Regions from separate parts of the Homo sapiens genome. Here region 1 is reported to be linked to region 2. The links are microRNA targets in miRTarBase. Many come from high-throughput screens and were not tested one by one. Region 2 holds a microRNA gene; the other region holds the end of a gene's coding sequence.

Region 1 (4,339 bases), not on the chromosome of region 2:
CCTCTAAAGCCCAGCCCTTTATGCGACACCTGGGCCTGGTGCCCTCATCCTACCTGGGCCCCGCCTGGCCCCTCAGCCTTGTGCCCACCGCAGGTGCCTGATGGCTTCATCTCCCATTTCTACTCCGTATCGGAGCATGTGAGCCCTGTCCTAGCCTTCGGCTTCCTTGGACCCAAGCCTCAGCTTGCTGAAGTCTGTGCTTTCTTCAAGGTAAACAGAGAGCAGTTCTCGTTCTTTCCTGACCCTTGCCCTGAGCACAGGCGCCCTGGGAGGTGCCAGGAATGGGATGAGGGCCTGGGCCTGGGCCTGCTCCCAGAGAGAGGGCAGAGCCAGACCCACATGGGTCCAGAGGAAGCAGTGGGAGGGAGGAGCCTGGGGATGGAAAGGACCGGCTGGGGCTCTGGTGGTGGACAAGGGGACTTCAGGTAACCTGGGGGGCATCATGGTGGGCAGTGGCTGGGCCAGGCCTGACACCAGCCCTGCTCCCCCAGCACCAGATTGTGCAGTACCTGAGGGACATGTTCGACCTGGACAATGTGCGCTACACGTCACTGCCCGCGCTGGCAGACGACATCCTGCAGCTGTCCCGGCGCCGCAGCGAGATATTGCTGGGGTACCTGGGGGTGCCCGCGGCCAGCAGCGCAGGCGTGAATGGGGCGCTGCCCCGAGAGAATGGGCCCCTGGGGGAGCTGCAGTAGAGGCGGCACGGGCTGGGGGGTGGCAGAGAGAAGGCTCCTCCTCCCTTCCCTGGGTTGGTATCTGACAGCTGTGGTGGCTGAGGGCCGTTGCCCCTGACTTTGCCCCACCCCCATCATCTGGGAGTCCCCAAGGCCCAGAGGGGACATTTCCATGGAGAAGAACGGTTCCTGGGGGAAGCAGAGGCCAGGACCAGTGGGGCCTGTGGGAGAGAAAGGCTGTGAGAGAGGGGGTTGTTGTGGAGAATTGGGACAGGCAGAGCCAGGATGCCCCAGGTGGGGGACCCCAAAACCTCCCATCGCTCCAGGGCTGCTGACAAGGGTGCTGGGAGGGTGGAGGTGAAGGATGGGGCCTAGAGCCCTGTGGTGAAGGTCACAGTGTCCTGAGCTAGAAGCCACCTGTGGCTATATGGTCTCAGCATCCAGCTGGCCTGTCCTGATGCCCTCCCCACCTCAACCGCCTTCTCAGAGAGTTTGCAACTCCAGAGAAGGAGAGTGGGGCCACCTTAGTGGGCAGCAGGCCTGGGCCATCCAGAGATGGGGCAGAGGTGGGCCTCCCACTCCTGTGCTCTCTTCTGAGCAGGAACTGGGCCCTTGACAGTGTCCTTTGACATTCCCTCGCCCTACCAAAGATCGTCTTTTCTCCTCCCACCTCTGTCACCACCAAAGACGGGCGGAGGTGGGGCTGGGCCCTCCTGCCCCCGCCCATCCCCCTTCCATGAGCCCAGACCTCCCTGGGTGGTGCTAGGCTCTGAGCTGGGGGCTCAGACCAGGGATCGCTCAGGCCCCTGTCACCTGTGGGCCCGGGGACCACTTGGGGGAGGTCAGAGGATGTATGTGGCCGGACCAGCTTCCCCACCTTCATTAGGACAAGAAACTGCCCAGCACTTTGCCTTCAGTTCAACGCACAAACGCTCCTGGGGCCTCATGGGGGCAGAGCCTCCCCTGGGCCTGCAGAGAGTCCTGTTAGCAGCGACGTCCCCCCGCCGCGGGGTCCTGTCAGCCCGGCAGTGTCTTCTCAGTGTCTTCACCTGAGCGAGTGTCTGTGGCCCCAACGCGTTCTGCTGTGGCTCTGCCCTTTCCAGGTTGAGAGGCCTGCAGGAGAAACACACTCCCCTCCTGGGTTTCCACACTCAGGAGGTCAGAGGACTGGCTCCTGTGACCAGGGCCCCTCTCCCCTGAATGGGAAAGGGGTCTGGGGATGGGAGGGCGCACCACAGAGAGGAGATGATGCTGGGTGTGGCCCATCTTCTGTGGGCCCCTTCCCAGACACCGGATCCATGGGCACTAACCCGCCTCCCAGGCTGATGCCCGGAGGCAGCTTCCTGGGCAGGAGGGTTCCATGGGCACTAACCCACCTCCCAGGCTGATGCCTGGAGGCAGCCTCCAGGGCAGGAAGGACCCTGTGCTCCCCGCCCCCCATCCTGACATCCTGTTCTTTTGCACTTACCCTGTGCTGTGAATGTAACAGTGGGCCTTGGCCCCGCCCACTCTGATTTGCATTTTCATTTGTGTTTGTTTACACATCCATGCACTGCCTGTAGCAGTCGATTGTCACAGCTTCGACTTTTGGATGGTAGAGTGTGTGCACTGACTGTGAGTCGAATAAACAATTGAGACGATTTCCTTCCACTTTGCCATGTTGTTGGTTATGTGCATGGCTGTTTGCTTCTTGGGGCAGAGCAGGGCACCTGCTTTTTGGGGTGCCGTGGGTGAAGGTTCCAGGAGGACAAAGGTCAGGAGAAGCCTGGTGGGGGCTGTGATCCTACTTGGGGCAACTTGACTGCCTGACAGGATCCAGCCATCCCTAGGCAGGGAGGGCCCCGGTGGTCCGCGGGGAAGGGTGGGGAGCGGCCAGTGCCACGCTCAAGGCCATGGATGCAAGGTGGGCAGCCTGGCTGTGGACCCTGCTCAGGCACCATCTTAGGGAAGTCGATTCTCACTGGCCCTCAGTTTCCACATCTGTAAAATGCAGGCACTGGACCGGGCCAAGATGCAGACTCACAGGCTTAAAGGTTGTTACCCCCCAAGCTGTGAGAGCCAGGGGGAGGGGCTGGAACACTGGGAACAGGTCCAAGCCTGCCGGATCGTTACAAGTTTTCATGGGCAGCTGGAAATCACAAGTTTTATTTTACAGGTTTTTAAAAAAGAAACTTTAAAAAAAAATTTCAAATGTATGGAAAAATTGAAAAAACTATATAAAACCAACACTTCTGGTCATGTAATTAACATTTTGACTTTTTTTTTTTTTTCTTGAGACAGAGTCTCGATCTGTCACTCAGGCTGGAGTGCAGTGGCACGATCTCAGCTCACTGCAAGCTCTGCCTCCCAGGTTCACGCCATTCTCCTGCCTCAGCCTCCCGAGTAGCTGGGATTACAGGCACATGCCACCATGCCCAGCTAATTTTTTTGTATTTTTAGTAGAGACGAGGTTTTACCGTGTTAGCCAGGATGGTCTCGATCTCCTGACCTCGTGATCCGCCCGCCTCAGCCTCCCAAAGTGCTGGGATTACAGGCGTGAGCCACCGCTCCCGGCAACATTTTGCCATGTTTATTTCATGTATTTCCAAAATACTTTAGCCTAAGTTTCAGACATGTACTTTACTCTTAAACCTTTAAGCAGAGCTTAAAAACAAGGTAGTCACATTCTTGTAAGTGGGAGTTGAATGATGAGAACACATGGACACACTGCAGGGAACAACACACACTGGGGCCTGTCGGAGGGCAGGGTGTGGGAGAAGGGAGAGCATCAGGAAGAACAGCTAGTGGATGCTGGGCTTAATACCTAGATGATAGGACTGCTGGACACAGTGGCTCACGCCTGTAATCCCAGCACTTTGGGAGGCCGAGGCAGGTGGATCACTTGAGGCCAGGAGTTTGCAACCAGCCTGGCCAACATGGTGAAACCCGTCTCTACTAAAAATACAAAAACTTGGCCAGGCATGGTGGCGGGTGCCTGTAGTCTCAGCTGCTTGGGAGGCTGAGGGACGAGAAGTGCTTGAACCCGGTGGGCAGAGGTTGCAGTGAGCTGAGATCACACCACTTCACTCCATCCTGAGTGACAGAGCGAAACTCCATCTCGAAAAAAAAAAGAGAAAAAAAAACCTAGGCGACAGGATGATGTGTGCAGCAAACCACTGTGGCACATATTTACCTATGTAACAAACCTGCACATCCTGCACATGCACCCCTGAACTTAAAAAACAAAAAAACAAGGTCATTCTCCAGAATAACCACAATACCATGATCACACCTAAAAAAAAAAAAAATTCTCGGGGCCAGGCACGGTGGCTCATGCTTGTAATCCCAGCAGTTTGGGAGGCCGAGGTGGGTGGATCACCTGAGGTCAGGAGTTTGAGATCAGCCTGGCCAACATGGTGAAACCCCATCTCTACTAAAAAAATACAAAAATTAGCCAGGCATGGTGGTGCATGCTTGTAAGCCCAGCTACTTGGGAGGCTGAGGCAGGAAAATCATCTGAACCCGGGAGGCGGAGGTTGCAGTGAGCCGAGATCACACCACTGCACTCCAGCTTGGGCGACAGAGCAAGACTATGTCTCAAAACAAACAAACAAACAAACAAAAATAATTTTCTAATGTCTTTGCTGAAAATAAGAGCTTTTCCCAATCAACTGGGGATGAAC
Region 2 (4,380 bases):
GGCGCCCCTCACCGGGCTTCCAAGCGCTCTTGTCGGTGTCGCTAGAAAACTCGCAGAGATTGGAGCTGAGAAAAGGCGGGCAAAGTTCCTTTTGATAAGTTATGAATGGGGAAAAAGTGTTTGTAGAACTCATTGTTAAAACCACGGAGCCCGAGACTCGGCCGGCGCCGGGCCAATCGGAACCCGGAGGCTATTTTGAAATCTCTCCCGTCTCAGCCAACAGGCATGCAGGAGGCGAATCCCCGCGCCAGCGCCGGCCAATGAGCGCAGCGCTATGCTAAGGAGTCGGGGGCCCGGCCCCTCCGACTGTCAGCGGGTTAAAGATGGAGCCGGCAGGCGAGGGGCCGCCACGAGGTGCAGGGTCGTCTGGACGGGGACCCGGGGGCAGACGATGGCCGGGATCCTCTTCCGTCTAACCCTCCGCGTCCTGACCGGGCCCTGGGCGGAAGGGATGTCTGCGTGAGTCAGCTGTGTCTGAGGAGGGGATCCTGGGCTGGGCTGGGCGGCCCTACTCGGCGGGTCAGGCGGAGGGGCGCGGCCGGGATCCCGGGGGCCCTCTTTGGAGCAGGGAACTCTAGAAGGGCGGGGAGCCCCCATCCTCTGCTCCACTCTGGGCCTCCAGGCAGAAGAATATGTTAGAAAAGAATCCAGAGTGTATCTAGTGCAGGGCAAGGGGCCAGGGATGGAGTCGTCAGCTAGAAGGGGCGCGTCGTCCCGGGGTGGGGCCGCCCTTTTTCTCCTGGAGCCGCGGGCCGAGTCAGGGCGCAGGGTCGTCGGGCTGTACCCACCCCGCTCCGGGCGCTAGCCGGCTTTGGACTGCGGCTGAGTGCGGGTTCGTCTTTGTGTGTGCGCCCCCTCCCCTGCGTGGCCCGTCAGCTCCTGCTCCGGGATTGGAACAACCCCCTAGTCTGGGGTTTCTCCTCCACCTCAATCCGGAGCGTTCTGGGAAAGGCCTGGGTGTCCTGGGTTCTGAAGACCCCAGGGACGCACCCCGCTGCGGTCTCCTTCCCTGCCCGGATGGACTGGACGGGGGCTCTGCCCCACCCACCCATCCATGGTTGAGCTTCCCGCCCTGCGTGTATTGGGGGTGGTGGGGTCCCCCCTGCTGGCCGCAGGTGCTCTGACGAGGTTGCACTACTGTGCTCTGAGAAGCAGTGCAATGATATTGTCAAAGCATCTGGGACCAGCCTTGGGGATCTCCCTCCCTATAACCCTCACCTCCCACTCCCCAGGCAGGGCCCCTTGGGCTTGCAGGCCCTCCCCTCCCCCCTACCCAATTCGCTCCCTTCTCCATGGAAACTTGAGATTCTAGACAGGCCTGGGCCTCTGGGGTCAGAGGGCACCCTTTCCCCCCGGGCAGAGGCCCCGCCCCAGCCAGCCTGCATTCCAGGTCTCAGATCCCTGCAGACCACCCTGGGGGAGGCACTGGCAGGCCTGCCCGACACTCTTTCCCTGTTGCACTACTATAGGCCGCTGGGAAGCAGTGCAATGATGAAAGGGCATCGGTCAGGTCCAGCCTGCTACCCTGGGAGGGGGAAAGGGAGCTTGCTGCCTCACTCCACTTTCCAGTTGAGAAGGTTGAGGTGCCCAGAGGGTAAGTGTTTCCACTGATTAGGCACAGATGTGAAGCTGGACTGGACCCTCCATCAGAGGATCAGGTGGGTGCAGAGCTGGAGAATCATCCCTAAACTCTCCATCCTGTCATGGCTGGACAGGTGCAGGAGCAGACCTCCCCAGCTTCTGAAAAGCTCTTGTTTGAAGGTCTTTCCACATTGGGTCCCTGGGGTAAGACTGGAACTCCAGGCCTGGTCAGGGTCTTAGGGGAAATACACGCCCAGTCTTTTGCATGGAAGATCATTCTAGGCCTGGCTTGGGCCCAGTCCTTGCTGGAAGCTTGAACAGGGCCAGGCTCTGGAGAGAATGTTCTTCTGGGTGGCAGTTGGGTAAGGGGGTAAGGCAGGCCTTTCAGGAGGCAGCCTTCACCCCAGGACGTCAGCTGGAGTGGTACTATGGACTGACCAGTTGACTGATCAGTTGAGTGGACTCAGCTGGAGTGGTACTATGTGAGATGGATGGGTGGACTTGGGATACAAAGCCTGCAAATGATGTCTACCAACCATGCCAGTTTGTTCTCTTACAGAGAGGTGTGCCCTGAACCTGCAGGAGGGACTGAGGTGTCTAACATTCCAACCGTCCCAGCTGGAATACAGGGTTGGAGCTGAACTTCCAAGGAGCCTGACCCCAGGCATGCTTGGATGACCACCTCTACCATCAAGACCTGACACGGTGCAAAAGGTTTCTACGTGCCCAGTCACAGTCATTCAAATCTTCTTTAGAGGAGGACTAGGTTTCCAGATGGGCTTTTGGGAGTTCCCCTCATCCCTAGCTGGGCGCATTGGGAAACTGCTTTACCCCTACCCTGGGGAGAGAAGCCCTGGCACCCGTGGGAGGAACAGGGGCAATGACACATGCTCCTTGGCTTCCTAGTCCTGATCCCTTGGGGTTCCTTGATCCTAGGGTCATCTGACTTAGATCCATCCTCCCTTCCTCTAGGCACCAGGGGCCATGGCTGGAGGTGGCCACCCCTCAGTCCTGTACAGATTCTGTACCCACTGGCTGGAGACCCCCATGCAGCTGTCTCCTGCTCTTGCTGCGGGGAGACTGAACTCAGGGCTCTGCTCACTGGCTCCCTCCCAATGGAAGCCTTCTCTGGGCTTCACAGCATTGAATATTCCTCCAGAACAGCTTGTTAAATCAAATTTTTTTTTTTTTAGATGGAGTCTTGCTCTGTCGCCCAGGCTGGAGTGCAGTGGCACGATCTTGGCTCACTGCAAACTCCGCCTCCCGGGTTTAAGCGATTCTCCTGCCTCGGCCTCCCGAATAGCTGGGACTACAGGTGCTACCACACCCAGTAATTTTTGTATTTTTAGTAGAAACGGGGATTCACTATGTTGGCCAGGCTAGTCTCGAACTCCTGACCTCATGATCTGCCCTTCTGGGCCTCCCAAAGTGCTGGGATTACAGGCATGAGCCACCGCACCCGGCCTAAATCAAAATGTTCTCCCTGTGGCAGAAGTGTCCATTAGACTGGGAGCCCCTGAGGCAGAGACAACTGTCATTTAAAAAATCTCTGGCCAGGCGCAGTGGCTCATGCCTGTAATCCCAGCACTTTGGGAGGCCGAGGCAGGTGGATCACCTAAGTTCGGGAGTTTGAGACCAGCCTGACCAACATGGAGAAACCCCATCTCTACTAAATATACAAAATTAGGCTGGGCGCAGTGGCTCACGCCTGTAATCCCATCACTTTGGGAGGCTGAGACAGGTGGGTCCAAGGTCAGGAGTTCAAGACCAGCCTGGCCAAGATGGTGAAACCCCATCTCTACTAAAAACACACACACACACACACAAAAATTAGCCGGGTGTGGTGGTGGGCACCTGTAATCCCAGCTACTAGGGAGGCTGAGGCAGAGAACTGCTTGAACCCGGAAGGCAGAGGTTGCAGTGAGCCAAGATCGCGCCACTGCACTCCAACCTGGACAACAGGGCAAGACTCCCTCTTGAAAATATAAAAAATAAATATACAAAATTAGCCAGGTATGGTGGCGCATGCCTGTAATCCCAGCTACTCAGGAGGCTGAGGCAGGAGAATCACTTGAATCCAGGAGGGAGAGGTTGCGGTGAGCTGAGATTGCGCCATTGCACTCCAGCCTAGGCAACAAGAGGGAAACTCCGTCTCAAAAAAAAAAAAAAAAATCTCTTGGCAGTGTCTGACAAAGAGGAGGGGCCCAATAACCCCCCACCCTTTTTTTGAGACGGAGTTTCGCTCTTGTTGCCCAGGCTGGAGTGCAATGGTGCAATCTCGCCTCACCGCAACCTCTGCCTCCTGGGTTCAAGCAATTCTCCTGCCTCAGCCTTCCGCGTAGCTGGGATTACAGGAATGTGCCACTACGCCCGGCTAATTTTTGTATTTTTAGTAGAGACAGGGTTTCGCCATGTTTGCTAGGCTGGTCTCGAATTCCTGACCTCAGGTGATCCACCCGCCTCGGCCTCCCAAAGTGCTGGGAGCTGTAAGCCACTGTGCCCGGCCTACACTTTTTAAAAATACAAATACAGGTATAAAGTGTGAAGCATGGGTTACTGGAATGACATGATGGGAGGGTGATTAGGGATCTGCTCCACCCTCAAGGGGGTGCTTGTCCTGTATGAAAAAAGGCACATCCTGGCCAGGCACGGTGGCTCACGCCTGTAATCCCAGCTCTTTGGGAGGCCGAGGGCGGGGGGATCACCTGAGGTCTGGAGTTCAAGACCAGCCTGGCCAATATGGAGAAACCCTGCCTCTACTAAAAATACAAAAATTAGCTGGGTATGATGGTGTATGCC

The links. The annotated mature microRNA hsa-miR-130b-3p reads CAGUGCAAUGAUGAAAGGGCAU and lies in region 2 at 1,482-1,503, shown strand. An mRNA with a match to its seed (bases 2 to 7 or 8) in the 3' UTR can be bound and repressed. Matches are read on the target gene's strand: a 7mer-m8 pairs with bases 2 to 8, a 7mer-A1 pairs with bases 2 to 7 and ends in A, and an 8mer does both.
Region 1: the mRNA of MIGA2 is a reported target of hsa-miR-130b-3p. Seed matches in the 3' UTR shown: 7mer-m8 at 2,136-2,142.

What each region holds. Positions count from the first base shown.
Region 1 is chr9:129,069,756-129,074,094 of GRCh38, forward strand. It overlaps MIGA2 (mitoguardin 2), which reads left to right. Exons shown (of 16, transcript NM_001329990.2): 15 at 94-210; 16 at 492-2,327. The coding sequence ends at 698. Among named protein-coding and RNA genes, the nearest start is that of DOLPP1, 9.2 kb to the right of the region's middle. RefSeq lists enhancers at 2-141, 1,089-2,038, 2,039-2,988.
Region 2 is chr22:21,651,873-21,656,252 of GRCh38, forward strand. It overlaps MIR130B (microRNA 130b), which reads left to right and starts at 1,432; the gene lies at 1,432-1,513. MIR301B (microRNA 301b) reads left to right here and starts at 1,109; the gene lies at 1,109-1,186. It also overlaps the pseudogene LOC107985532. RefSeq lists enhancers at 1-564, 565-1,236, 773-822.